Homo sapiens: one gene and its partners. The protein of the gene in region 1 purifies or fractionates together with the protein of each later gene. This does not show direct contact. Each region holds a gene or a part of one and is shown in the gene's direction. Other genes may lie near its edges. The genes, in order: STYX, RRBP1, FBXO38, CAP2, LRPPRC, COA6 and TPR.

Evidence for each region.
Region 2: the proteins of STYX (region 1) and RRBP1 purify together in Homo sapiens (affinity purification with mass spectrometry; one study listed by BioGRID and IntAct). This does not show direct contact.
Region 3: the proteins of STYX (region 1) and FBXO38 purify together in Homo sapiens (affinity purification with mass spectrometry; 2 studies listed by BioGRID and IntAct, with this or other methods). This does not show direct contact.
Region 4: the proteins of STYX (region 1) and CAP2 purify together in Homo sapiens (affinity purification with mass spectrometry, with the first as the bait; one large-scale study listed by BioGRID). This does not show direct contact.
Region 5: the proteins of STYX (region 1) and LRPPRC purify together in Homo sapiens (affinity purification with mass spectrometry, with the first as the bait; one large-scale study listed by BioGRID). This does not show direct contact.
Region 6: the proteins of STYX (region 1) and COA6 purify together in Homo sapiens (affinity purification with mass spectrometry; one study listed by BioGRID and IntAct). This does not show direct contact.
Region 7: the proteins of STYX (region 1) and TPR purify together in Homo sapiens (affinity purification with mass spectrometry; one study listed by BioGRID and IntAct). This does not show direct contact.

The regions. Positions count from the first base shown.
Region 1 is NC_000014.9:52,728,541-52,733,016, forward strand, and holds the start of STYX (serine/threonine/tyrosine-interacting protein), read left to right. Parts: upstream 1-1,625; 5' UTR 1,626-1,934; coding exon 1,935-1,991; intron 1,992-4,476. UniProt on the Homo sapiens protein: Catalytically inactive phosphatase. Acts as a nuclear anchor for MAPK1/MAPK3 (ERK1/ERK2). Modulates cell-fate decisions and cell migration by spatiotemporal regulation of MAPK1/MAPK3 (ERK1/ERK2).
Region 2 is NC_000020.11:17,615,995-17,619,940, reverse strand, and holds part of RRBP1 (ribosome-binding protein 1), read left to right. Parts: intron 1-212; coding exon 213-308; intron 309-1,261; coding exon 1,262-1,345; intron 1,346-3,101; coding exon 3,102-3,209; intron 3,210-3,931; coding exon 3,932-3,946. UniProt on the Homo sapiens protein: Acts as a ribosome receptor and mediates interaction between the ribosome and the endoplasmic reticulum membrane.
Region 3 is NC_000005.10:148,439,387-148,443,332, forward strand, and holds the end of FBXO38 (F-box only protein 38), read left to right. Parts: intron 1-260; coding exon 261-406; intron 407-1,037; coding exon 1,038-1,141; intron 1,142-1,737; coding exon 1,738-1,851; intron 1,852-2,582; coding exon 2,583-2,761; 3' UTR 2,762-3,450; downstream 3,451-3,946. UniProt on the Homo sapiens protein: Substrate recognition component of a SCF (SKP1-CUL1-F-box protein) E3 ubiquitin-protein ligase complex which mediates the ubiquitination and subsequent proteasomal degradation of PDCD1/PD-1, thereby regulating T-cells-mediated immunity.
Region 4 is NC_000006.12:17,501,466-17,505,411, forward strand, and holds part of CAP2 (adenylyl cyclase-associated protein 2), read left to right. Parts: exon of another isoform or gene 1-522; intron 523-1,748; exon of another isoform or gene 1,749-1,883; intron 1,884-3,946. UniProt on the Homo sapiens protein: Involved in the regulation of actin polymerization.
Region 5 is NC_000002.12:43,943,972-43,947,917, reverse strand, and holds part of LRPPRC (leucine-rich PPR motif-containing protein, mitochondrial precursor), read left to right. Parts: intron 1-142; coding exon 143-187; intron 188-547; coding exon 548-661; intron 662-1,674; coding exon 1,675-1,805; intron 1,806-2,500; coding exon 2,501-2,586; intron 2,587-3,946. UniProt on the Homo sapiens protein: May play a role in RNA metabolism in both nuclei and mitochondria. In the nucleus binds to HNRPA1-associated poly(A) mRNAs and is part of nmRNP complexes at late stages of mRNA maturation which are possibly associated with nuclear mRNA export.
Region 6 is NC_000001.11:234,371,693-234,376,418, forward strand, and holds the start of COA6 (cytochrome c oxidase assembly factor 6 homolog), read left to right. Parts: upstream 1-1,763; 5' UTR 1,764-1,774; coding exon 1,775-1,986; intron 1,987-1,990; exon of another isoform or gene 1,991-2,026; coding exon of another isoform or gene 2,027-2,148; exon of another isoform or gene 2,149-2,537; coding exon 2,538-2,697; intron 2,698-4,726. UniProt on the Homo sapiens protein: Involved in the maturation of the mitochondrial respiratory chain complex IV subunit MT-CO2/COX2. Thereby, may regulate early steps of complex IV assembly.
Region 7 is NC_000001.11:186,351,254-186,355,199, reverse strand, and holds part of TPR (nucleoprotein TPR), read left to right. Parts: intron 1-1,349; coding exon 1,350-1,512; intron 1,513-3,089; coding exon 3,090-3,224; intron 3,225-3,729; coding exon 3,730-3,870; intron 3,871-3,946.

The DNA.
Region 1 (4,476 bases):
ACCTATACATGATTCTTATATCATCTGGCAATAAAAGCTATAACAAAGTACACAAAGGAATCATCATTGGGCATCAATAATTATTAAAGATGCTGGTGAAAAGAAAAGACAACTTCAGTTTCATAAACACTAAAGAACCAAAAATACATGACCTAGCTAATTATACAATAATTCTTCAAATTAAAAACTTCCTAGCAGGATATTATGTGCCTTTTTATAATTTTAGAAGATGAACAGTTAAAATAGAAAATGGAGTGGTCAAGTTAGCCATCTCATACTCAAATTATTGTACAGTTCTATTTCTATGTGTTGGCAGTGCATTTTATGTGACAAAAAGTAGAATGTAGGGGGAGGTTTAAGTCAAATATCTATGTGATCTTTTCACTTATAATTTGCATTTAGTTAAGGAGTGACTATCTTGCCTTTTACCTTTGTGCTGGCGGTGGTTTTTTAAAGAATCAATTTGGTGTACAAATCCTTTCTTTCTTTTTTTATTTTTGATTTTTTTTGAGATGGAGTTTCGCTCTTGTTGCCCAGGCTGTAGTGCCATTGCACTATCTCAGCTCATTGCAACCTCCGCCTCCCGGATTTAAGCGGTTCTCCTGCCTCAGCCTTCTAAGTAGCTGCGATTACTGGCATGCGCCACCACACCCAGCTAATTTTTGTATTTTTAGTAGAGACGGGGTTTCTCCATGTTGGTCAGGCTGGTCTCAAACTCCCGACCTCAGGTGATCCACACGCCTCAGCCGCCCAAAGTGCTGGGATTACAGGCGTGAGCCTCCGCGCCCGGCCCAAATCTTTTCACCATGGGTTTACAGGCATAACGCCACCACACCCAGGGAATTTTAAAATTGTTTTTTAGAGAGGGGGGTCTTACTATTTTGCTCAGGCTGGCAAACTCCTTTTAAAAGATATTGAAAGCCATCTGGTTTATTATTTTTATTTCAAAATATAATAATGGAAGAAATTTTACAGTATTATATACAATTTACTGAGTCAGCTATCAGTTCCTTTTTCTGATTTTTTTCTAGTTGCCATTCTTGATATTTTCTAGGTAATCTAAACTGAGTTGTATTTTCAAGTACTCTTAAAATACTTTAAAAAATTTTAAATTGAGCCGTTTAATTCTTTGCTTAAAGGTGATGGGTATTTTATTTTCTGTATGGCACCACGTGATTTTAAATTGAACTCTTCATTTATTAGTCATTTGGTTATAAACTCAGCATAGATTGCGCAGAATTTTGAGAGGGGAGAAACTATAGCTTTCCTTTCGGATGCCACTGGTGGGTAGCCTGTTTTGCCTGTTTGTTCTTATGTTAAAGAAGGGCTCTACGTCCTGTCTGGAAAGGGCGGAGCTGGCTCGGACCGCCCCACTGCCTTTCCCAGGACCTTCACTCGTCCTGTCCCACCGCAGCCCCGCCTCCTCCACGCCGGGTGAGCTGTGGCCTAGCAGCATCCGAGGCTCCGCCCCCCCCACCCCCAAGCGTCTGCGCTCTAGCGAAGGGGCGGAGCAGGGCGGTGGCGCGCTGACACCTGGCGGCGGCGGAGGGCGGGCAGAAGGCGAGCGTGGGCTGGGATTGGCTGAGGCGACGCGGGTGGAGGGGGCGGGAAGGAGGCGGGGAGACGGTTGTCGGGCTGGTTCCTGTGCTGGATCCTGGGCGGCCTGAGGGGTACGGAGACTCTGGGGGAGGGAGACGGCAGCGGCATGGCGGCCGGGTGTAAGACGCCCGACCCTCCTCTTCCCTGTCTTCGCCGCCGCCGCTGCTGGAGTCACTGGGACCCTGTAGTCTGCGTGTGTTAGTTGTAATCCCGCCGCCCTCCTGTCAGCCCTCCGCTCCGCCGGCCCTCCTTCCTTCCGCCGCCGCAGCCAGCCCGAGGGTCGGCCGGCTGTGTAACACTCTCCCACCCCACCCACCAGCCCGCGGGCCAGCACCATGGAGGACGTGAAGCTGGAGTTCCCTTCCCTTCCACAGTGCAAGGAAGACGCCGAGGTGAGTCGCTCCCGTGGCTGCCACGCACAGGCCTCTCCCTGTGGCTCCGGCCGAGGGGCGACCCCAGTCCCCAACCGTCTTAGCCGCCACCTGTACGGGCGCCCTGCCTCCTAAGGGCGTCCCGGGACCTCTGAAGCCGAGCGGTCGGCTCCAATCCCCACTGAGTTGCTCGTCCTCTCCAGACCCCGCGGAGGGGCAGCGTCTGGTGTACTTACATTTGAGAAGAGGAAAAGCAATCCCTTAGTCCCTAGGCTTGGCATCCAGGACTGACCTGGAGTAAGGTTCCTCTTTTATTGTCAAAGTAACAAGAGAGCGAAGTTGGTTTAGTCTCCTTTTGAGGAATATCTGTGGTGTAAACGATTCACTTGTGGGACACATGGCCCCACATGTGAAATAGACTCGGCGCCTGAAGTTTGGAAGCGCGCCTTCGAAAAGTTTCCCAAAGTTTTTTGTTTGTTTTTAGACAAAGCTATGACCCGCACAACAAAGTGTCTCAAAGCTAGCTCATCTTAATCTGAGAACTCTTAATCAGAAATCTTGACCTTTGGAGGAAAATTAATATTGAAAGTAAAATACTATATACCTTTTCTCCTGGTTTCTAATTTGTGGCTATTTTTACTCCACCTTAGATCCCTGCCTGCTGTTTCTACTCGGATTTTTTTTCATCTGTTGCTAGTTTAACATTTTACGGCATTGCAGACTACTAAATTAGAATTTTCTGGAGGCTAAATTAACAAGACGAAGATACTCAGCTATACTTTAGTAGGATTAAGAAAGAAAATCTAACATCGCTAGTTAAAAATACCTTTAAAGTAGTTGGGAAAAATAAAGCCCTATTTTTAGGAGACCATTCAATTTATTCCGAATATTTATTCTATTGAATATCTTCATTGGAGGTTCACTTTTTTTTTTTTTTTTTTTTTGAGACGGAGTCTTGCTCTGTCGCCAGGCTGGAGTGCAATGTGGCGCGATCTCGGCTCACTGCAACCTCCGCCTTCCGGGTTCAAGCGATTCTCCTGCCTCAGCCTCCTGAGTAGCTGGAACTACAGGCGCGCACCACCACGCCCAGCTAATTTTTGTGTTTTTAGGGGAGACGGGTTTCACCATTTTGGCCAGGGTGGTCTCGATCTCCTGACCTTGTGATCCGCCCGACTCGGCCTCCCAAAGTGCTGAAATTGCAGGTATGAGCCACCGCGCCCGGCCTAGGTTCACATTTTTGTTTGGAGGGCTCTCTTGTGGTATTGATGCTTGACAATTACATTTGTTTTAAGAGTAGAGACTTTGTTTGTGACTATCACTGTTGCAAAATGTAGTGCAGTGGTGTGATCTCGGTTCACTGCAGTCTCGAACTCCCATGCTCAAGCCATCCTTTCACCTCAGCCTCTGGAGTAGCTGGGACCATGCCGGGCTAATTTTTCTTTTTTTTTTTTTTTGTAGCGATGGGTTTTTTCTCCAGGCTGGTCTCGAACTCTTGGCCTCAAGATCCTCCCGCCTTGTCCTCCGAAAGTGTTGGGATTACAGGTGTGAGCCACTGCACCTGGCCCAAGAATATACTCATGGTTTTTTTTTTTTTTTTTTTTTTGACACAGAGTTTCACTCTTGTTGCCCCAGGCTGGAGTGCAGTGGCGCTGTCTCAGCCCACCGCAGCCTCTGCCTCGGGTCCCGGTTCAAACAGTTCTCCTGCCTAAGCCTCCTGAGTAGCTGGGGATTACAGGCGCGCACCGCCAGGCCCAGCTTTTTTTTTTTTTTTTTTGAGACAGAGTCTCACTCTGTCGCCCAGGCTGGAATGATCTTGCAGTGGTGCGATCTGGGCTCACTGCAAGCTCTGCCTCCCGTGTTCACGCCATTCTCCCGCCTCAGCCTCCCGAGTAGCTGGGACTGCAGGCACCCGCTACCACACCGGGCTAATTTTTTTGTATTTTTAGTAGAGACGGGGTTTCACCATGTTGGCCAGGATGGTCTCAAACTCCTGACCTTGTGATCCGCCTGGCTTGGCCTCCCAAAGTGCAGGGATTACAGGCGTGAGCTACCGCGCCCGGCCAATATACTCTTAGAAAACAGGAGGTCATATTTAGGCTAGTTATAAAAATGAATTTATACTTAACATACAATAATGTGAATGAAGAGTATGCTTTTATTTATTTATTTATTTTTTTGAGACGGAGTTTCACTCTTGTTGCCCAGGCTGGAATGCAGTGGCGTGATCTCCGCTCACTGCAACCTCCGCCTCCCACGTTCAAAAGATTCTCCTGCCTCAGCCGCCTGAGTAGCTGGGATTACAGGCGCCCGCCACCACTCCCGTCTAATTTTTGTACTTTTAGTAGAGACGGGGTTTCACCATGTTGGCCCTGCTGGTCTGGAACGCCAGACCTCAAGTGATCCGCCTGCCTCGGCCTCCCAAAGTGCTGGGATTACAGGCTTGAGCCACCGCGAAGGAGTATGCTTTCATATCCTCAAAATGATTCAGTAATTTCAGCACTTAACT
Region 2 (3,946 bases), on another chromosome or scaffold:
GTCAGTCCCCAGGAGTGCCCGGGTGCAGCCTGCCACTTTCCGTAAGGGGTTCTCTTGCCGCGGACTAGTTTCTCGTTTGCTTGGTAGCTGGTGGGCCTCAGGGATCTCCCGAGAGGCCTCACCTATCCCAGGGCCAGCCTGCTCCCTGAGGTGAGTGCCCTTTGAGCAGAGGCTGCTGGCGCATGCGTGTGCGTGTCTGTGCATCTGTCCAGGTGAGGGAGCACACGTCGCATTTGGAGGCAGAGCTGGAAAAGCACATGGCGGCCGCCAGCGCCGAGTGCCAGAACTACGCCAAGGAGGTGGCAGGGGTGAGTCTGCCCCCCAAGGAGTGCAGCCCCTGCCCAGCAGATCTGCGGTCCTCCCTGAGCTGCTTCTCCTCAGCCCTGTGGGAGCAGCTCTCGGTGACATAAGCCTTGAAGTCCGAGTCCTCAGGCGTTTGCCCGAAGCCTCACAGGCCCCTCGTTGGGCTGTCAGGCCTGAGGTGTCTCTCAGGGCAGGTTTCAAAAAGGCAGCCTCCCAGCCAGGACAGGGGCAGAGCCAGGCAGCCCTGCCCCGAGGGAGGCGTTTGACGTTCTAGGTTATCCCTCCGCAAGGGGATTCTCTGCCTGGCTTGCTGATGTCATATCTGGTGGGGAGTGGATTTAGATCTGACACTTTTTCTGCTCTTCAGAAGCAGAAGCACAAGCCCAGTATCCCAATTCTGGTTTAATCTCAAACTTTTGGGCCAGGCACAGCGGCTCATGCCTGTAATCCCAGCACTTTGAAAGGCTGAGGTGGATTGCTCGAGGCCAGAAATTTGAGACCGGCCTGGGCAACATAGCAAGACCGCATCTCTACCAAAAAAAAAAAAAAAAGCCAGGCACACTGGTGGGCACCTCCGTTCCCAGCTGCTTAGGAGGCTGATGCAGGAGGATTGCCTGAGCCCAAGAGTTCAAGACCAGCGTGGATGACAGATTGAGACCATCTCTGAAAAAAAAAATCATCTCCAACTTTTGGCCCTTTTTTGCCAGAGATAATCAGTAAACATTTGTGAAGGCCTGAAAGAGGTACGCAGTGAACACCATTCTTCCTAAGTCCTCAAAAAAGAAATCGTAGCTGTAGGAAGCCTGGCGAGCCCTGTGCCGGCCCGATGCTGTGACCCTCCTCAGGGTTTTGGTTAAGTGGATGTGTTAGGTTTTATGTTTCGGCGCTAACTCACGGGGACTGGTTTTCTCCTTTTCTCTCCTTTTTTCCCATCACCCGCCTCTGTTTTCTCCCCAAGCTGAGGCAACTTCTCCTAGAATCTCAATCTCAGCTCGATGCCGCCAAGAGCGAAGCCCAGAAACAGAGCGATGAGCTTGCCCTGGTAGGTGGCCTCCATGTCCCCATGCCAGGAGTGTGACCTGGGGCGTTGCGTGTGTGAGATGCATTTGCCAGTCATGCGTTTGTGTCCACTCAAAGATAAAGCCTAGGGAAGGGACAGTGTCACCCGTTGAGCAGCATGGGGCCGGCTTCTGGGGGCCTTCCTGCACATTTGCCCAGAACTCTGAGCTGGGCCTGTGGCTGTTGGGACCAGGGTGCTCCCACTCCATCTCCCGTCCCCTGGCTACCTGGTCCCCTGTTCAAGGTAGTGAGAGCTCTGGGCGTCTGCATTCCCTGTGAGCCCATTGTAGTCACCTGGGGGCGTCAGGGATATTGCAGTCCCTGGCATCACAAGACCAGGAAGCCTGGGGGTTCCTCCTGGCCTGGCCACCCATCGCCCTGGGGCTCTCAGCAAGTCCCGTGCCTTCTGTGGGTTTTCTCACCTCAGTGACAGCTCAGATCAATTCAGTCAAAGCCACAGGCATGCAGGGAAGACCTGCTCCACGCCCGGCCCCATACCAGCTGCCGGGTGCAGAGAGCAGCCCCCTTGGCAGACCACTGGAGCTCTGCCTGTGCAGGTGGCCTCTTGAGTCCCTCCTGGTGTTCAGCTCAGGTGTCTGATGCCAAGTCCCAGCTCCTTGGCAGGCTCCACCCAGCCTCACCGGATCTGGTACCGCCCCAAGGCTGGTGTTGTGAGCAGCACCCTGTGAGGCCGCAGACATGTTCTGTTTGATCTGCGGTGTTTTTTTAAATCTTGAATTAGTTGTCAACAGGGAGAAATTGGGAAATTTTAAATAAAAATGGGCTGGCATTCCCCCTGCAGCAGCCAGTGAGTCCGGCACACGCTCCCAACACCCTCGGTCCCCCTTGGTCATTCAGGTCTTACCCGGACCAGAACACCAGAGGGCAGTGCTGCCTAGGCCAGGTCTCCTCCTGTGTCTAGGGGCCACTCACTGAAGCCTTGGCTGAGCGAAGTCTGGGTGACAGGCCCCGGGGGCATGGCCCAGGCCGGGGATGTGCAGAGAAAACCCCCTGGAGTTTCTGTTGTCTTCCAGCTGTGCAGTTCGTTATTTGCATTGGGAGGGGCTGTTCAGAGGGAGGGAAGAATGTCTGGGGTTCCCACGTACCTGGGGTGGCCCCTCAGCGCAGGGTCAGAGACCGCCCATGTTCCCTGGGGAGCTTATGCCAAGGGCCCCACCTGGGTCTCCAATTGGAACCTCTACCTGAGCCTCTCGAGTGACACCTGCCCTTCAAATTGCAGGCCCAGTGGTTTGGGTGCAGCCAGATATGCCACCTAACCCCAGTGATGGAGCGTAGGGGTGGGGGACCTTGTTAGGCAAGAATGTTATCTCATAATCTTTTCTAGACCCCGGAAAGGGCTCTGAGCAGTGGACTGCATCCTTGAAGGAGAAACGGGGGGTGTAGACAGTGTGGCGGCCACCCCCCGGTTCCATTCGGATTCCTTTGCTCTGTGGGCCATGCCCATCAGGGGTCACCTCACTCCCAGGGAGGGCTCCCCTCCGGTTGGGCTTGGAGCAGAGCACATTGGGTCTCATTAGCCCAGAGGCTTGGTGGCCTTGGTTTGGCTCAGGTTGGCGGCGGGGGTGGCCAGACATAGGTCACAGTTACCAAGCCAGGTCCCCTGAAGGGACTTTGGCTGTTGAGAGCAGCTACGGTCCTCCGAGGGGGTCCCTGCAGGAGTGAGCATGGTGGGTGTGCGACTGGCTGTGCATTTGCAAACACACCCCTTCCTGTTCCAGGTCAGGCAGCAGTTGAGTGAAATGAAGAGCCACGTAGAGGATGGTGACATAGCTGGGGCCCCAGCTTCCTCCCCAGAGGCGCCCCCAGCCGAGCAGGACCCCGTTCAGGTTAGGGCGGTGAGCTGGTCCCCAGACACATCACTAATCCCAGAAGAGTGCAGGCCCTGCTGCCTCCGTTCGGACTAAACCCCGCACTGGCTGCTCCAGCCTCCGCTGCTTCCCCACCCCACCCTGCTTTGCCCCATTTGGATCATCCAGGTTCGGAGAAAGCCACAGAGCATGGAACAGAAAGGTGGCCAGGTGGAGAGGCTGGAGGAGTTGGGGGGAGGTGGGACTCGAAGAGGGAGTCCGTGATTTGGGGTCTGCACCTACAGGGCTCAGGAGCAGCTCTGGGCAGGGTCTGCAGCCATCGAAGGGGACTGTCTCCCACTGCAACCCCGGCTGGGACATCGCTAGCAGGATATTCGCTCTCCAGAGTTTTGAGCCCGGCAATAGCCACCAAGAGTCCTCACCAAGAGGCAGGGCCTGTCCCTGGGGTGGCCATGGTGTGGCTGTTAAGGGGGTTGTCATGGGGCCAGGGCTCGGAGGCATCGTTCTTGTCCTGTGAGTCTCGTTAAAGGCCCCTGAGGTTGCAGAGGCCCCATCAGCTGCTCCTGAGCCACACCGAAGTCTGTACCAGGGGCTGAGGTGCCCTCTCCCCAACGAGGGGAGCGTTGGGGCAGGGAAAGGGGAAGCTAGAAGCAGCTAGAGAGCGGTGCCTGTGCTGGATCCCTGGGCCCCTGGAGGGTTCCTCACCGGGCTGCCGGGTTATGTTTGCGGTGTTTGCACAGCTGAAGACGCAGCTG
Region 3 (3,946 bases), on another chromosome or scaffold:
TCTCAATCAGGATTCTCTGGTTTAGTAGGCATTTAAATATAACAGTGAGATATAAATTGCCAAGTTCCCTAGACAGAAGAATTTGCAAAATTATTCCCAGCATGACAGACTGTTTTCAGGTCTGAATGTGACTATTTGATTTTCAAATCAGCCAGAGATTTCAAAACTGAAGGTCCATGGAAAGATTGTTCAAGCTCTCGGAGAGAGATTTCTAAGGCATTCTCTTTGTTGAAGACATCTCTTTATGATGTCTTCCACAGGTGGACACTCTAACTTTGGAGCAGAAGCTATTTAGTGGTCCCTACCCCTATCACATCTGTATTATCCATGAATTCAGTAACCCTCCCAATGTCCGGAATAAGGTGCGCATTCGCAGCTGGATGGACACTATAGCAAACATCAATCAGTAAGTAACTTTGTGGCCCTTAAAGGCCTTTTGAGTCATTTCTCATAGCAGGGACTCCCAGAAGCAAATCCCAATTTTTCTTTATTTTAAATGATTCCATCTAAGCTTTTCAAACAAGCTTATCCTGAAGTTAACGTAAGTAAGAAACTGAGGGAAATGAGGACTTAAAACTAAAAAGCATGTGTATATATTTATGATCTTTAAAACTCAGGTAAAAATTACAAGAACAGATTGCACATGTACTTGTAACATTATTTAGCCTTGGGGCATGAAAAAGAGATCAACTTGAAGAAGATCTTAAGACTATGATATTCTATATCATCAGAAAATTTGACTTTTATAAATTTGTTATATAAATGTTGCATTAAGCACCTTTTGTGTAGAAGACATATGCTTAGAAAGTGACTTTCTTTCCCTGATATGATTTTGAAGATAGTGAAGAAAGTAGTTTTGACCTGACTACACTTGGATTCTCTAGTTTGAGTGTATCCTACTTCCGTTAGGTATTTGATGTTTTGTTTGAGATGTTCGGTAGAATCTGTGTCCGAAACAGTTTTGATGGTTCCTTCCTACCCGACACTAATTATTTCCAGTTTTGTAATTTTTACTTAATTTTTCCTGTTGCTTCCAGAGAGCTCATTAAATATGAATTCTTCCCTGAAGCCACTCGAAGTGAAGAAGACTTAAAGAAATACCCCAAGTACCCCTGGGGGAGAGAAATCTATACTTTAGAAGGTGAGTATTTACAAATGTTTAGAAAGTTAAATAGCCTGTGCAGTACTTACCTCTGTAATCCCAGCGACTCAGGAGGCTGAGGTGGGAGGATCACTTGAGCCCAAGAGTTCAAGACCGGCCTGGGAAACAAAACCTGGCCCTTTCTCATTCACGGATGAATGAATGATCCATCAATCAATTAGTCAAACTGGTTTGGGCTTACAGCAAGCAGTAACCCAAATGTAGAGAATTACACTTTTTAAAAAAAGAAAGTTGAATAGCTATTAACTAGATGACCGAACATGCCTTAGGGAAGATATGAATGGGGGTCCTACAGTTCTTCAAAATATGGATGATTTTAATACCTGCAAGAAGTGGGAGCCAGATGAAGATTGCTTTGCCTGTATGAGTCTTTACTATTTCTAGGACAATCAGAACCAGTGATGAAACATAAAACGTAAACAGAAATTACAAATTAGTTTGATAGCTGGAAATGATTTGAGGACACCTGACTCACTCTCTTTATTTTATATTTTACATTCTGCTTACAAAATACTGCAGAATTTGGCTCTGTCAGCACTCCCACGCCAGTTAGCAATGTTACATTTGTCTTTTAGGTGTTGTGGATGGAGCTCCATATTCCATGATTTCTGACTTCCCTTGGCTGAGGTCATTACGAGCTGCAGAGCCCAACAGCTTCGCTCGATACGACTTTGAAGACGATGAAGAAAGTAATTATGACCTGACTTGACATCTATTCTCTAGTTTAAGTATAGCCTACTGTGTTACATACTTAATATCTTTTTGTGAGTTAGGAGCAGTGCAGTGTTAAATGGTTTCCCATAGAAATAATTTGTATTTACTCACTTCAAAACAGTTCTTTATTTGTGCAGTAGATGTTCAGTGGACTTACTAGGGATATATAAAGGCTGGTAGAAAGGATTCCTTTAGACAGATTTTCCTACAAGATTTTTATATTACCTAAATATTTATAATCTTATTTATTAAATAACTTCAACTATATTGTTTCAAAATTGTTCCAATTGTATTATTCTCCTGCTAGTTATGAGCTGCTTATTGTGTGGAAACTTATAATTTAGGTGTAGAAATTAGGGGAGAAATTTTTGAATGTAGTTTCTCTAAGTGGTAGCATACTTGAATATTTATTGTTAACCAAAGGTTTTTTAAAAATACTTTATAAGGAAATGGATTTTATGAACTACATGTGCATGTGTCTGACTTGCCTTTGGTGCAGTATTTTTACCTTGAGACTTTAAGCATGTATTCTGTCTTAGGCATCAAACATAAGAACAAACTGGTGGTGACCCATTCCTTGACCTATTCATGCATCAGTTACATTATAGTGCAGTATATGGGACTGTCCTATGGACCAGCTTATCAGTGATTTTCCAAATGATTCTGATTATCATATGTATCTCTCCTTTTATTTCTAATTTCAAAGGCACTATCTATGCTCCTAGAAGGAAAGGACAGCTGTCTGCAGACATCTGTATGGAAACAATAGGAGAGGAAATTTCAGAGATGCGTCAGATGAAGAAGGGTGTATTTCAGCGAGTAGTGGCAATTTTTATCCACTATTGTGATGTCAATGGAGAGCCAGTTGAAGATGACTACATTTAATTGGTCCCTCCTCCTTTCCAGCTATTTTGTCAGAAAGCAAGTAGGGCCATCCAGCTGCCAGAGTGCTCCACAGGGACTTGAGGCATGCAGTTGGGAGGTCCTGGCTCGGTTTGCTATATAGGGAATATATAAGGAACATCGAAATTGTATACAAAGATTTGTACATAAAAAATATACAAAGACGCTTCCTAAAGTACCAACTTTATATCATATGTTTATACAATTTAATTTAAAAATTCATTTTAAGGAAGACAGATAATTTGAAAGACTTTTGTTTTTCTTGACTTAATTCATGAAGTATCATTTTTTGACTGAGTCTCCATTTACTTCATTCTTAATGATTATTGTCATCCCTTTAAATCTGTGCCTTTTTCTTCTTGAGCGAAGCTGTTTGAGTAAACCTGTTGAAGAGTGTTTGTGTCTTTTGTGCTTTTTTGTTGTTATTAAAACACCAACTAAACCTTATAGTCAAGACAAGGCTCTATGTTTCTGTACAAAGCTGTAGTTCTTTCTTAGTATTATAGTTGCCATGTTTCTTAAAATCAAGTAAAAAGACTTATGAGCTTAAAAAAAAGTGAGTTTGAGAGGGAAATGGAAAAGTTTCCAGAGTATTTCTAGTAATTTATTTCCACATTGAATTGTGTATATGCTTTATCTTGAATATAAAATAAAAGTTTATTAAAAACTTTTCTCTTGCCTTGGACCTGAATCCCTCTTTTTAAAGAAGAGTAGCAAATACTGCACAGAAAAGCAGTGTATATATAGAGTTGTATCTAAGGTAAGATTCCAGTGTAATCCAATTTCTGATCTCTGAAAGTTTTTAGCTACAAGATGTTCAACTCACATAACTTTTTTTGTTTGTTTTTTTTGGTTTGGTTTTTTTTTTGAGATGGAGTTTCACTCTTGTTGCCCAGGCTGGAGTGCAATGGCATGATCTCGGCTCACTGCAACCTCTGCCTCCCAGGTTCGAGTGATGCTCCTGTCTCAGCCTCCGGAGTAGCTGGGATTATAGGCACCCGCCACTATGCCTAGCTAATTTTTGGTATTTTTTAGTAAAGGCAGGGTTTCACCATGTTGGCCAGGCTGGTCTGGAACTCCTGATCTCAGGTGATCTGCCTGCCTCAGCCTCCCAAAGTACTAGGATTACAGGCAGAGCTCTTTAAGGCAATACTGGGAACAGCAGAA
Region 4 (3,946 bases), on another chromosome or scaffold:
AAAGAAATTCGTTAAAAAGAAGTAACAATGACTGAACCATTTTCCACCTGATACAGAACTACATGAGAACCATGGGTTCCAGAAATAACAGGCCTATTTTGTTTTGCTCAGTGATACATCTTTGAGGTCAAACTCCCAGAGTTTGTGCCGTCTCTTACAAAACAGCCTGAGTGGGAATCTGGTTTTCCTTTTTGGGTAAAGTTTCTACAAAGCTTGCTGATAAAACTCATCTTACTTTTGCAAAACAATTCCCTTACTTTGGGAGCCAAACAGAGATGAAGCTGATAACAGGACTCAGTTCTTCAACTTTAAAGCAGAAGCTAGGGTCATAAAGACATGGAGTCCTAAAATACTCTTCCAAAGTACAGTCGCATCCAGCTAAGATAACCCTTGGAAACGTTTGCTGAAAACATGCAGTTTGTTCATGCATCTCTTCCATGTTGGTCCTTTCCACCTTCTGTCACAAGCCACAGAAACTAGGGGAAGGCCAGGGAGCAGGTTCAGCTCATCTTCACCTGAATTCTGAGAAATTATTGAGAATCAAAGAAACCTCAGTGAGACGTTAACAAAAAGTAATCTGAGTGACATCTATGTAAAAGTCATTGCAAAGCACACTAGCTGCTAGACATATCTGGGGAGCTACCACCAATGCACTCCCTTGACAGAAAACCAGGACACCTCTTAGATGAGCTCCTTCTTTAGTGGAAAACCCTTATGTAATTTTAATTGACATCAATGCAAATCAGCCTGTATTGATTGAGTGTGCCTAATATACGCTTAATACTGAAACAAGTTGAAGTACCTCTCATAGACCCCCCATTGACTTTTCGTCTGACATCCCACACAACCAGCTCCAGCTTTGATGGAAGTCACACCATCACTCTAATGTTCTCTTCTATTTTTGATTCCTGCCTTGAAAGTCAGGATGAACTGGTGAAGATAAGACTTCTTTAAAGTACAGGAGAAATCTATTGGCACAGAATAAAAGCACTAATGTTTATTAGAGTTGTGCAAATAGCTGTTGTACTTAGTTCTGTCAACATTGCTTTTTTTTTTAATGATGACAATTCTTCACATAATTGCCAAGCTAAAGCAAAAGAAAACTTTCTCAATCTTTATGATGCTTTCATCAGATAACCAATATAAAGTATCTTCCAGAAGACTCTGTCTCCTCAGACTTTAGAGTTTGTTCTAGGGAAGTTAGAGATAAACAAAGATGGCCTTAATAAATCTCTCTAATGTTATAAATATACAGTTTCTGGTTCTTTTTCCCCTTGGGGCAGTGGGCCAGGTATCATCAACAATACAGATATTCTGGCCTTTCTCAAAAATGTCATTACATTAAGAACATTATGACTTAGCAAATTGTTGGAGAAAATTAGGAAGCTTTTTTTAGTAGTTCTGCCATCATTAAAAATCAGCTGCCTTCTGGGGAAACTGATGCCACACCTTTGATCAGGTGTTGTATTTGGACTGAAAACAATCCCCCAAAGAAGGAGATGTTTGCTTTCTAAAGAATGAAGCTCCAGGGAGGGTATTTAAAACTGATTTTTGGCAGCCATTAACAAACAAGCATGACATAATTGTATTTGGGGCCAGGAGTGTTTAGAGGGGTTTTTGTTTGTTCTATTGTTGAGAATTTGGAGGTAAGGAGTCCCTGAACTGCCATTACCCCTGCATTGGTTTGCTAGGGCTGCCCTAACAAAGTACCACAGACAGGTAGATTAGAAACAACAGAAATTCCTCACAGTTCTGGAGGCTGGAAGTCCAGGATCAAGGTGACGGCAGGGTTGGTCTCTCCCCACGCCTCCTCTGTGTGTGTCTCTGTCTTCATCTCCTCTTCTTATAAAGACACCAGTCAGGCCGGGTGCCATAGCTCACACCTGTAATACCAATACTTTGGGAGGCCGAGGCGGGCAGATCACAGGTTGAGACCAGCCTGGCCAACATGGCGAAACCAAAACCCCGTCTCTTCTAACAATACAAAAATTAGCTGGGTGTGGTGGCGTGTGTCTGTAATCCCAGCTACTTGGGAGGCTGAGGCAGGAGAATTGCTTGAACCTGGAAGGTGGAGGTTGCAGTGAGCCAAGATCGTGCCGGTGCACTCCAGCCTAGGCGACAAGAGCAAAACTCTATCTCAAAAAAAAAAAAAAAAAAAAAGACACCAGTCATATTGGATTGAAGCCCACCCTAATGACCTCATTTTAATTTAATCATTTCTTTAAAGACCCTATCTTCAAATATGGTTGCATTCCCACCATATTTAAGATCCTTTCTCCAAATATGGTACTGGGGGTTAAGGCTTTAGCATATGAATTTGGTTGGGGGGCAGGTGCACAGAGTGCAGTCCCTAACAACTCTGATTCAAGGTCTTTTCACCAAATCCATAAGCCCTTTGCTTTGTAGTTGTCAGAAGGGAAAGAGAGGAGACAGGAAGATATTCATGGCTTTTCCACAAGAGCTGACTAGCTTCTGCAGCAAATGTTTTTGTTTTTCCCCTCCTTCAGTAATGGATAGCTAAAAAGTCCACTGGGAACCTTGAGAGCACTTTGCTTTCTTTCCCTGTATTTCTTTGTTTCCCCCAAACAGAAGTGTGCCTCTGTCCCTCAGCATATGTCAGTTAGGAAACCACTCTCCTTGTGTTTGCATATAAGGGATGGGAAAGAGCTAGTCAGTGAACTCGGCCAATCAGAGGCTTTGTAACTGGCAGATACCTTGGAGAAAACCAGCCACCTGTTGTGCACCCACAGTATACCTGACCCTTTACCAAGCATGACATGTTCTCTCATTTACTCCTCCTAACATACCTGTGAAGCAGGTACTGTTGTCAACCCTAGCTTGCAGATGGGACAAGGGAATCTTGGACAAGTGTGGTAATTGGTGTAAAGTCCCAGAGCTGAGTACACTGTGGAGCAAGGATTTGAACCCAAGAAGTCTCATTCTAGAACCTTTGCTCTTAATCTCTTCTAACACCTTTCCCTAGTCTTATTGGTAGAGAAGAAACCTGTATGTAGAGAACTAACCATATTTTTCTCAGCACCCAGTATCGAGAATTGTCTCAGGGCCTCCCCGAAGACCTAGCTTCCAGTTCCAGCTCCACTAATCATTGCTAGCTGGTCTTGACATAGTCAATTAACCTCTCTGAGCTCGTATTCCATATGTAAAATAGGAGAATTGGATTACGGCCATGTTTCTCAAACTTTTAGGCTAGATCCATAAAAAGAAATACATTTTATTTGGCAACCCAGTACACACACAAACACACACACACACACTTCATAACCAAAACAAGTGTTTAATACCAAAATATCCATCCTTATTACATGTGAATGCCCTCTGATATTTTCTATTCTAATCTATTTTCATGATTTTTAAATATTAATTGTGACCTATTCTATTGGATTTGTCAAAAAGCTGAACTAGGTGACCCAGTTTAGACTCCTGGAATCCTAAAATCCTGTTAATCTATATAGATGTCTGTTTGGAGCTTCTCATATCTTGAATGCATATTTATTTTAAACAAATGAATATCACATATTACAGGGGACAACATCCTTTTTACCTCTGGTATGAGTTAACTGCATCATGGAAATAATAATAATTACTTCTATTTATTGTGTACCTCCCATGTGCCAGGGCTTTAAAATGCAGTATCTCCTGTAGCCTGTAGGTGGTAGGTATTCTCTCTGATTTATAGATGAGGAAACTAAGGATCTGATTAAGTAATTTGCTCAAGGCCCCATAGGCACCAAAGCTGTTTGAACCAAGGCCATTCTAATTCCAAAGCCCTTACATTCAACATTCTTTTCAGAGGAGGGTATATAAAGGGGTTTAGAAGGAGAGGTAAAGTCTAAAAGCTACCGCAGCTGCACATAATTTATTTCCTAATAGTTTGCTGTCCGTGGCAGAAATGACTGCCCTCTGGGGTGTGAAGCCACCGCTGCAG
Region 5 (3,946 bases), on another chromosome or scaffold:
AAAGTATGAAGAGAATGTCTAAAATTTTGGAAAGATGAAAAGTAGTAATATGAGGTGAGACTTACAAATTTGCTTTTGATGTTTGCTGATGTATTTTTACGTGTGTTTTCTAATTCTGGGCTAATTTAAATTTCAATTTTAGGATGCTCACTTGTTGGTTGAGAGTAAGAATTTAGACTTTCAAAAAGTAAGTAGGATTTTGACTAGATTCTACATGCTATAATACCCATATTTAATGAGTATTCTGGATTGTGTACTTATAAAACCAGTGATTCCTCACATTTTTATCATCTTGTATACCTCTAAGAAGTTGGTAAAACCTGTTCCCCACCTCAGAAAAATCAACATATCTAAGAAATTTGCATATAATCTCAGAAGGTTTGTAAATCCCTGGAGTCCATCCATGGATTCCCCAATTAATATCCCTGATAGCATTTATGACATTTAGGAAGGTAGAAAGGAAAGTCAGTTTAAAGGGAAGAGTGACAAAAGGCATACTATATTTCCTTTTTCAGGAAATTTTTCTTTTCTTTTTTCTTTTCTGTAGACTGTGCAACTTACATCATCTGAATTGGAGTCCACACTTGAAACACTAAAAGCTGAAAATCAACCTATAAGAGATGTCCTAAAGCAACTCATATTAGTGCTTTGTTCAGAAGAGGTAACATTTGTTTTAATATTTAAATATTATTAAGGCAAAAAATTCTTGGTAACAATAAGAAAAACCAAATATAATATTTATGATTTTTACAATTGATCGTTATATGTCAGGCTTGTAAAGAATGCAATTAAATGAAAGGTTAACTAATTTCAGCTACACCTTGAATGGCATGTTTTCTGGTTGCTGTAGTTTGTTTACGATAATCTGCAAAGTGAATGATAGTAACAGCTGTGATAGGTTTATCATACATGCCAAATGTCCTTTCAAGCCATGGCTCCGGTCTCTTATATCTAGATTGTCAAGCAACTGATACACGCAGTAGTCATTTGCAAGTCAAATATTACTAGGTTGTTAATGCAGGGATTGAAATTCCATTTTCCTGCTGGAAAAAAGCTCTTTCTGAGATAAAGGGTCCCTTGCCTTTTTTCAGCGGGCATCCAGCTGTACTTTGTGTTCATTTTAGTGTATGTCTGCAATTTGTGGGATATCACTAGACTATTTTTCACTTTCTAGTTCAATATAATTGAGCCATAAACTTGTAGTTTTAGGGAAAAAATATCATGACTAACTTTATGATTATAATCTGCTACTGTTAAATTCTAAAATATTTCTTCATATTACTTGGATACTAAACTAGACTGAGAAACTTTTCAATGATACATATTTCTGCATCCTGAAATTAGACTGTGATTAGGATTTGATTTGGGAATTACTTAATCTGGAAGTCTTTTTTAAATAATACCATACACAAAGCCTAAAACATCAAATTTGGCATAAATAATGGCCTATTTTATATTACAGATAACACATCTTTTAACCCCTACACGTGTAAGACTTGCCCACTTCTTAGAGGTGAATAAAAATATCAAGGGGCAGAGTCAGGTTGTTAACATGAAACCATTTATTTTTAAAGTACTATTAACTTTTTCTAAACTCTGAACAGTAAAGCTAAAAATGTGACATTTTTACCTTCACACTGATTTCTTCTTTTTCACATCTATGCTGTATTTTAGAATATGCAAAAAGCCCTTGAATTGAAAGCAAAATATGAATCCGACATGGTTACTGGTGGCTATGCAGCTTTAATAAATTTATGCTGTCGACATGATAAAGTAGAAGATGCCTTGAACTTGAAAGAAGAATTGTGAGTACCCTGGCACTGAAACAAGTTGTCAACATTTATTCTGCTCTACAGACCTTGATAGATTATCTAGATGGAATATTACTCTCTTATATAATGTCATTTTTAAAAATTCTTTTGTTGTCAGTGTTTTTGAAATTTCGTATTATACGGCTCTTTAATTAATTGTGGCTTATGTTCAGCAAGGTGTCTTTGTTTAAGTATGATAAGACATTCTAGTCCTTAGAACCAAAGGTTTTTTTCCATTGATTATATATCATCACAACAGTGGTGATGGTGGTAACTGTTTTAAGAGGCTTGATAACATTTCCCTTTCAATATTGTAGTGTAAATAAAATTCTATCCATTTCTCAGGTACCTTTGGCTTCCTATCCTGTTAGATTTTTCAAGTAAAAATGTCAAGTATTCGTGATGAAGGTTAGAATCACTTAAAGCCAAAGAGTTTCTTCATAAGTATCCTTTGCAGATGGAGTGATGCAATATATATGTAGTGTTGGGCTTTTACTTCACTAGTCACTTTGAATATAATTTCGTGTGAACTTGTATATGGCTTCAAAAAGAAATCCTAACTGAAGCGTAGAGGCCAACATTAGTTCAGGTCTTCTGATGAGCTTTTGAAAAGTGATTAAATGGATGTTGCTGTTCTTTTAGCAGTTAATTGACTTTTAAAACAATATAAATGTGGCTTTAATTTTTAGTGACCGCTTAGATTCATCTGCTGTCCTTGACACCGGCAAGTATGTAGGCCTTGTAAGAGTATTGGCAAAGCATGGCAAGCTCCAAGGTAAGCCTCAGCACATAAAGGAAATATGTGATGCAAGTATCTTGCCACTGGAATAACATGTGAATTGATATTAATGGATATCATGTCCTGCAAAGTGCTTGAACACTTTGCATAGAAATTTGCATGTGAATCCAACCAGAGCTACATGGACAGTGTAGGCCATTAGTTTTAATGGATTGGCAAGCTTGTCATTTACATTTGCACAGCTCAGTGCTTTTTGCATTTCTGCAGCTAGTTTTTATTAGCATTGCTGTTTGGATTGAGTTTGAAGATCATGACTTATGGCACAATTTGCTTATGTGCCTGCACTAATGGCTTTGTTTTTGCTTAAGAAGGTCTGAAGGCTGAACGTAAAACCTATAAACGTAAAACCTATAAACATAACCTAATATATGCGCCTGAATTTTGCAGTAGTCTTTGCCTTACTTTTTAATAACATTAACAAAATATATACTTTAAAGTTTTTATTTTAATTAAGGTTTTTATTTAATGGTTCATGGAAAAAGCATAGCTGATTACACAGCTGATTTGCATACTCAAATTTTCTCGTTGAGATAATGCTAAGCCTAATAAAATTAATTACACTTGATAATACATTCATACTATTTTCTTGTTTCTTAACTTTCTGATTTGGCTTTATTTTGAAATTTCCTTTTTAGCCTTCCTCTTTTCCTTTGATTTTCAGAAAAGATTGTTTTAATTTTATTATAGGGAAAAATGTATGGAGAAAATCATTTATTAGAACATTGAATGTTTTCCTAGGACGCCTTTCTAACTCTTTCTAAGGATTAGCCTATTTTTTTAAAATCACTTTTTGTAAAGTGGTCAAAACATTTTGTCTGTGTAATAATTAAGAACAACATTATAAAAATGCACTTATTCCATATCCTAAAATGTTTGTTTCTGCCTTCCTAATGAAGCTTAATGAATCTAATGTATTAACATGCAGTCTTTTGGAAAGCTTTCATTGGCTCTGCTTGGCTAATTAGTATCGACATAGCAAACAGGCCCTATCGGTATCAGACCATTAGTCTGGCTGTATATACAGTGTAAACACATCTTTATTATCTGGCCTCCTGACAAGCCATCTGCTGAAGAAACAATGGTGTGATTTAGCAGATGTTAGCTCTGAACGATAAAAGCATCCATTTAGGAGGATCTTACAGCTATAGGGCAGACCATACAGGGTTATGTGGTACAGAGTGGGCACATAGTCCCTATCTATAATTTGTAGTCAAAGTTGCAGGGAAATGATAAAACCATGCTATTGTGGATTTATAATTGTAGTCTCGTTTAGAAATGCAAGTAGTAATTAACTTGAAATCGGCATTATACACTAGAATTTACATTCCTGCTGGGC
Region 6 (4,726 bases), on another chromosome or scaffold:
CTCTCCTATGCCAGTACAGGCTGGCTCTGGTACACCACTGCTTTTATTTTCCATTTCGTTAATTTCTGCTCTTAACATTATTTCTGTCCTTCTATTTTCTGTCTTATTTTGCTGTCCTTTTTCTAACTTCTTGAAAAGGGATTTTCAGCTCAAGACTTTTCAGACTCTTCTAATACACTTACTTATGGCTATAAATGTCCCTGTAAGTGCTGCTTCAGTTTCATCCCACAGGTGTTGCTATTGTTATTTTATGGTTCAGTTCAAAATATTTTCTCAATACCATTGACTCTGTCTCTGTGTTATTCAGGCTTGTTTTTACAGTTCTTTATTGATTTCTATCTTAAATGCACTGTAGTAAAAAATGACAATTATTTCAATTTTCAAAATTTCTTGAGTTGCTTTATAACTAAGTATGTGGTTGACTGTGGTGATGTGTCTGCTTTCAAAAAACTGTACATTCTGATTTTGGTCGTGTTGTTCTGTACATATTAATTGCGTCATTTTTACATCATGTTATTCACGTTTCCTATATCCTTAACTTTTCTCTTGCTAGTCTTAACGATTAGTGAGAAAGTCCTGTTAAAATTACCCAATATGACCAGGCATTTTTTTTCTTTGTAATTCTGTCACTTCACTTTGTTTCATATGTATTTTTCATTAGGTACTTATAAATTTTAAATTTAAAACACATTTCCTTTTTAGACTCAGAAGTCATCTAAGACTCTTTCCTTTCATTCCTTTTATATCCCATCAGTCATATTTAAAAGATATCTATATGTAAACTGACGTCAATAGACATGATGTAAAAGAAGGGGGTGGCTCTGGTAAAGCTAAAGTAACTCCACTATGAGAGTGCATTAACTATGGGGGAAATACTTTCTATATTGCAGAACACATATTTGGTGGTACGTAGCCTCACATCGCCACCCGGAAAAGTCTGCATATATTGAATTTGGAATGGATCAAACTGCACTGAGTGCAAAATTGTAAATTGCATCTTATATAAATGTTTTAGAACTAGATGATGGAGCAGATGGGATCTATTAAGAGAACGGGGTGCCAGATGACTGACCATAAACATGCTTTTTAATAAAGACTCTGCTGAGAGATTAACTCATATATTTTCTAAAATTTTTATTTCTTGTTCATTTTGTTTCTAAGATATTCACTCACATATTAAAAATAACAACGTCTCAAAACATTTGAAGCAACTCTCTTCATCCCTTTTAAAAATACCTTGCTGTTTCGGGGGTTAAAAAAAGCCACAAGGGAGATTAAAACAATACAAATATTTATTTTCCCAACTCCCCTGCCATGGGTTCTGGGACGTCACCGCCTCTTTCTGGGGCCCGTTTCATCCTTTTCTTTTAATCCAAGAAGCGATGGTGTTGTGCGCCTGTAGTCCCAGCTACCTGGGAGGCAGGCTGAGGTGGGAGGATCTTTTGGGTCCAGGATTTTGAGGCTGCAGTAAGCCGTGTTCTCACCACTGCACTCGAGACTGGGCGGAAGAGCGAGACACTGTATCAAAAACAAAACAAAACAAAACGAGAAGGCATCGCGGCTCTGTAACACTCCGTCCAGCTCTCGCACTCTCAGATGCAAACTTCCACACAAACTCCTCGGCTCGCCTTGTCCCGCGGGACTAGCATATCAAGCCTTCCGGGACACACCGTGCGATGATATATACGTATATACCCCTCTTGCCCTTGAAGGCCGGAAGTCGGTCTTACAGATAAAAGCGAAACAGGAAGTCCCGCCCCTCTATGGAAAGTAAATGGTAGCTCGGAAGGGTCAAAAGAGTCCGCGGTTTCGCCGCGTGAGTTGCTTTTTGCGGCTGGGGAGGTCTACGCTTCTAGAGCTTGAGCCAGCGGGGCGACCCTGCAGTGGCAGGACTCGGCACCGCGCCCTCCACCGCCGGTTGGTGGCCTGCGTGACAGTTTCCTCCCGTCGACATCGAAAGGAAGCCGGACGTGGGCGGGCAGAGAGGTCGGCTTGCTGATGGGTCCGGGTGGGGCGCGCGTGGACTATGGGCCCGGGAGGTCCCTTACTGTCCCCGAGCCGCGGGTTCCTCTTGTGCAAAACGGGGTGGCACTCCAATCGCCTGCTTGGTGATTGTGGCCCCCACACACCTGTTTCTACAGCGCTTAGGTTCGAACAGTAACCCTGTAAACTAGGCACTGCTGTCCCCGCTTTACTGGTGGGAAACGGGCTCGGAGAGAATAAATGAGCTGCCCTAAGCGACTGGGACAGAACCACAGTTCTCAGCCGGGCTTTCTGAGCCCACGCTGCCGCCCCAGCAGGGATCAAATCACACAGTGTGAGATAAGCCTCAAGAGCGGGTGGCCTTATGCTGCCACTGAGAACTGATTGGGTTCAGTTGCCTCATCAAAATCCCTAAGCATGGTTTTGTTTTGTTTTTGTTTTTTTTTTTTTTTTTAGTTTTAAAGGAAGAGGAGATTGACGGTTTTCCTCTTTCCTTATCTTCTCTTCAGATTACAAAGTTCATTGTTAATCTCAAATATTATTTTGGCCAACAGCTTCATCGCAGTAGGAATGGCAGCCCCATCTATGAAGGAAAGACAGGTCTGCTGGGGGGCCCGGGATGAGTACTGGAAGTGTTTAGATGAGAACTTAGAGGATGCTTCTCAATGCAAGAAGTTAAGAAGCTCTTTCGAATCAAGTTGTCCCCAACAGTGGGTAAGTCACACTTTGATGTGTTTCTCTTCCCTGTTAAGATACATCGAGCTTATACTGTGAGTGGTAGGCTGACATGAAGCGCTCTCTGAGGCATGTCAATTAACAGTTTCTTTGAGGCGCAGAGAAAACCTTGCCTGGTAATTCAGCCTTATTTGACGCACTTACATCAGCTAGATCTTTGGAGAATGTCAACTGACACATTAAAGAGCATCGAAAAACACAACAAACATATGAACAGTAACCAAAAAATTCCAGTTCATTTCACTGGTAGACTTTTCCAGGATCTTCTGAAGGGGTAGTATTTAATCTTGGGCAGGAGTTGGCAAAATTATTGACCTAGAGCTACTATCAGAAATAAAGCATTCCCAGTTGCTCACCCAAAAATCCTGTAAGTCATCATATACCCAAAATATAAAGAAAGGAGTTTGGTAAGCAGAAGAAAGAAAAGGTTCATATGGTGGATTCTGTCTCCCTGACAGGCATTCAAGCGCTGTATCCCCTGTCCTTAGTATAAGGGGGGATTGGAAAGAGGACTATTACTGAGGTTAGTAAGTGGCCATGTGTGCTAAGTGCTTGACATTTTCATCTTCACCAGTACCTGTTAAGATAGGTGTTGTTGGCTGGGTGCGGTGGCTCACGCCTGTAATCCCAGCACTTTGGGAGGCTGAGGCGGGCAGATCACGAGGTCAGGAGTTCAAGACCAGCCTGGCCAACATAGTGAAACCCCATCTCTACTAAAAATACAAAAAAAAAAAAAAAAAAATAGCTGGGCATGGTGGCACATGCCTCTAATCCCAGCTACTCAGGAGGCTGAGGCAGGAGAATTGCTTGAACCAGGACCTGGGAGGTGGAGGTTGTAGTGAGCCAAGATCACGCCACTGCATTCCAGCCTGGGCCACAGAGCGAGACGTTGTTATTCTCTATCTCCAGAGGAGGCAGCTGAAGCTCAGAGCATTGAAGTAACTCGCTTGTTATTACTCAGCAAGTGGCAAAACTGTAATTTTAAGGCAGGCCTAACTGGCTGGTGTGGGATTTGAACTTGGATTTGCCTGTGCTTTTTCACTGTCTTATGCTGCTGCAAAATATACCATGTAGTTGGAAAACAGATACTTTTAGAGTTGAAGTGGTTTTAGGGGTTTTGCCCTCTCATACCTCAAACCTTTAAAAGGCTCTGAAGGAGGCTACAAGAAGGCTGTGATGCAGGGAGGGGTCGTATTGGTGGCTGAGCTGGGGATGAACACAGTGAACAGAAATTACTTTATTTTTCTTTCTTTAATTTTTAGAGACAGGTTCTCAATCTGTCACCCTGGCTTGAGTGTAGTGGCGTGATCATAGCTCACTGCAGCCTTGACCTCCTGGCCTCAAGCAATCTTCCCGCCTAAACCTCCTGAGAAGCTGGCACTATGGGCATTTGCCACCATGCCTGGCTAATTTTTAAAATTATTTTGTAAAGACAGGATCTCACTATGTTGCCCAGGCTGGGCTCGAACTCCTGGGCTCAAGTGATCTTCCCACCTCGACCTCCCAAAGCACTGGGATTAACAGGCGTGAGTCACCACGTCTGGCCAGGCATTGCTTTAGATGAACTCTTCATCTGTAAAACCAGCCTGTTACAACCTATCTCGTGGGATTGTTATGACAACAAAATGCATAACTTGACATGTAAACTGAAAACTGATCAATGTGGGACTCTATGATTGAATTAGATAATGACTCCAGAAGAAAATATTATACATCTGTAGTTTTCCCATTAGACAGATGCATTGAGAGGAACTCCAGGTTTAAGGAGTTCCCCTTCGATCCCACTTTTATCCTCTCTCTCCTCCTGCAACCCACTGCTTTTTCTCCAGCCTGATGGCTCCCACTCCCACACTTCCGGGGCAGCTTCCAGTCTGTGTGCCAGAAAGGGTTTTTACAACCAGCCATTTGGTTCTTGATCGTATGTACATCTCTCTCACTCAAGCAGACTGGGTGCCATCCCCTGAGGCCCCAACCTCTCTCCAGGTCACTGCGTCCTAGTCACCGCTAA
Region 7 (3,946 bases), on another chromosome or scaffold:
GGCGCAGCAGCTCACGCCTGTAATCCCAGCACTTTGGGAAGCCGAGGCAGGTGGGTCATTTGAGGGCAGGAATTCAAGACCAGCCTGGCCACCATGGTGAAACCCCATCTCTACTAAAAATACAAAAATTAGCTGAGCGGCAGTGTTGCATGCTTGTAATCCCAGCTACTCAGGAGGCTAAGGCAGGAGAATCACTTGAGCCCAGGAGGCAGTGGTTGCGGTGAGCCAAGATTGGGGCCACTGCACTCCAGTCTGGGCAAGAGAGTGAGATTCTGTCTCAAAAAAATAAAATAAAATAAAAATAAGTTGAAGTTCATGTGAGGAATGTTGGTAGTTTACCTTCCTAAGATTAAAGGACTTGTTTCGGTAGGACTTAATTCTTTTAAAAATGCACCAGATGATGAGAGAAATGAGAGCAAATTTTATTCCACCTTTTCTATTCTAGGTAGAAGAGAAGCAAGTGCTATGTAGTTTTAGGAGAATTAATTTTCTTGGTCACATCCAAAGAAATAATAAATATTTCATGATTATTTGTTATTAAATTCATTGAATGCTTGTTAGTTTAGTTTGTTAGGACAATATTTATTTTTATATAGTACATGATAAAACTGTTTCTGTTTTATAGCAGGCAGGATATATTGCAGGCAGTTACCCCTATACATCTAATAGTTCAGCAACCCCAATTAAAGCACTTCTTTTTTCTCTGTTGATACCTCTAGCCAGCCATTATGTCAGCTTTCAAGCACATAAGAAAATAAAACTGAGGATTATAGAAGAAAAAAGGATTAGCAAAAATCCATCACTAACCCTGTATAATAACTTAATTTGTATACTGCATTGTAGTGGGTGTCTGGTGTTATCAATATTGCATTGTCATTACTTTAAATATAATTGATTTTTTAAAAATAAGATTAAAAAGTTACTTAGCATGAAATACTTTGCTTACTTAGAACTTGAACCACTACATTTGGAATTGGGAAAAAAGAATGAAGGTTTTACCTTATTACACAAGCCACTTCTTCATAAATCATAAAATTAACCCCTTTCCCATTTAGAAAAAAAAAAGTGCAGCTTGCTGCCAGCGCTCATTTAATTTTACATAAGCATGCTGTTTGAGGTTGAGGCAAATCTGACAGATTTTCAGTGTGAAAATAAAATATAAAAACTGTTCCTGGAGTTATTTCTAAGCAGAATTCAACTTAACAGAAATATGTATGATGTTACATTAGGATTAGAGACAATATTCTCAGGGCATTTGGGGAAATGGGTTAAGCTATTGTGAAATTTCTTCAAGGGATTAAGCTAGGATATCATTTCAGTTACTTGTAGAATTACTTTTTTCATACCAGTTATGAAATGCTGCAAGATAATGTTGAAGGATATCGTCGAGAAATAACATCACTTCATGAGAGAAATCAGAAACTCACTGCCACAACTCAAAAGCAAGAACAGATTATCAATACGATGACTCAAGATTTGAGAGGAGCAAATGAGAAGCTAGCTGTCGCAGAAGTGAGTCCAATATCCCTTGTCCAACTTGCATTATAAGTTGCATTTGACATTTCTTTAGTTTTTACTTTGAATTTTACTCACTGATAGGACTTAGGTATTTAAGAAGTTTGGAGGTTACACCAAGTAATTAATACATAGTTTGCAAATAGCCAGTGTGCGTTAGTGGGGTGATTGTTTCTATTAAGATAGAAGAGGGAAAGGAATTTGTTTTTCTGCTGGGCTAAGATATACTCGCAAGTCTTGCATTTCAAAATAAATTTGTAGGTCAGTGTTTGGTTCTAACAAAGACGTTTTTTTTTTTGGTTTTTTTTTTCTTGAGACAGAGTCTCACTCTGTCGCCCAGGCTGGAGTGCAGTGGCACGATCTTGGCTCACTGCAAGCTCCGCCTCCCGGGTTTACGCCATTCTCCTGCCTCAACCTCCTGAGTAGCTGGGACTACAGGTGCCCGCCACCACACCTGGCTAATGTTTTGTATTTTTAGTAGAGATGGGGTTTCACTGTGTTAGCCAGGATGGTCTCGATCTACTGACCTCGTGATTTGCCCGCCTTAGCCTCCCAAAGTGCTGGGATTACAGGCATGAGCCACAGTGCCTGGCCAGACGAATATGTTATTCATTCTTGCTCATCTGTAATAAAAAGCAATATAAAAATTACATTGCATTGAATTTATATTTCTGAATTTTAACTTGAATATAAATGTCCATTTGAAATTATTACTTTTAACTAAATACTTAGTTTTGTGATGATAAATTTTTTATATAGTTTTCTTTGTTATTCAGTTATCTCTTCTGTCTTTGATCATTACTTGTAAGCTAGGTATAGTTGTCCCCCATTTTACCTGTGTAAAACAGACTCAAGAGCTAATGTATAATTTGCCTATTTTGGGACAGTCATGAGAGATGGGTTGGTTAGGACTTGAACCCATGTCTTATAATGCTCTTATAAGGCTGTATTCTTTATTTTTATCTTGCTCCAACTCCATTGTGAGGAGTGGGCAGCAGCACTTTTTCAAACTGGTAGAGTGAATTTTATCATTGATCATTTATATGAATCTGTGTGTAAATATGAGTACTTGTGTGTAAATATGAGTACTTTGAGCTTTCAAAACACTCTCCCTGGTCCCCTTGAGACTCAGACTCTTGGGGTTGAGGGGAGGGAGAAACTTTAAATAGATCAATCATCACTTTTAAACAGGTACTTTGAAACCGGCTTGGATTCTAAAAGTTACATAATTTAATAGTAGTCAGGTATGAATGATTACAGCAGTCATGCAATTCTGCTTTCTTCTTCTCACATATTAAATTTTTCTTGCTGTTATTTTTTAAACTGTGGATTGTTAGAGCAAGGAACCATAAGTATTTGTAATTGAAAGATTTTTTCATTGATGATCCCCAATAATTTTTGCTTCGTATTTTAGCACATGAAACTGTTTTGTATTTCCTTATACAATGAGGAGATATAGTCCCTAAGAGCATTAAAAAAAAGTAGTGATGTATGAATCATTTTAATTTTATAATCTTAATACACTTGACACCATGTTTTTCAGCATTTTTTATTTCATTTCTACTTATGTTTAGGTAAGAGCAGAAAATTTGAAGAAGGAAAAGGAAATGCTTAAATTGTCTGAAGTTCGTCTTTCTCAGCAAAGAGAGTCTTTGTTAGCTGAACAAAGGGGGCAAAACTTACTGCTAACTAATCTGCAAACAATTCAGGTAACCAAATAAAAAGCCTATGTAGAAAAAATGTATAAAAGTTAAATTTAGATTTTTTTTATCCTCTCAATTTCCTTAATTAGAAAATTTATCCATCACTTTTGTCATCCATTATGATCATTGAATTTTGCAGTTTATTAAGACATTTAAATATTTTAAATAAAATATTGAAAGAGAATTGATTGAAACCATACATTGGTAAGTCCTCAGGTATATTTACAGTGTCCTGTGCAGTTTTACTATTTATAAGATTAATTCTTTGGTTTTTATTTTCTTTAAAACTTTGGGAAATCTGAATGACGATTATAATACATTCCATCTCTTTCCTGTATAATAGATGTTTTAATATAAAAAATACCAGAATACTTTCTTGATAAATACTGTAGATTTTAGCTGCTTCATGTAGAAATGGGTTGTAATATTGTAATTCTTTCTTGCCTTCAATTTTTATTTTTTTGTATTGCCTTTTTCTTAAGCATAACCAAAAATCTTTTCTTTGCTTTAGGGAATACTGGAGCGATCTGAAACAGAAACCAAACAAAGGCTTAGTAGCCAGATAGAAAAACTGGAACATGAGATCTCTCATCTAAAGAAGAAGTTGGAAAATGAGGTGGAACAAAGGCATACACTTACTAGAAATCTAGATGTGAGTCCATCAGAGTTCTGAATTTCTGTAGGGTGTTTATGTTCAGTAATTAATCTGGTGTGTGGACAGTCTGCCA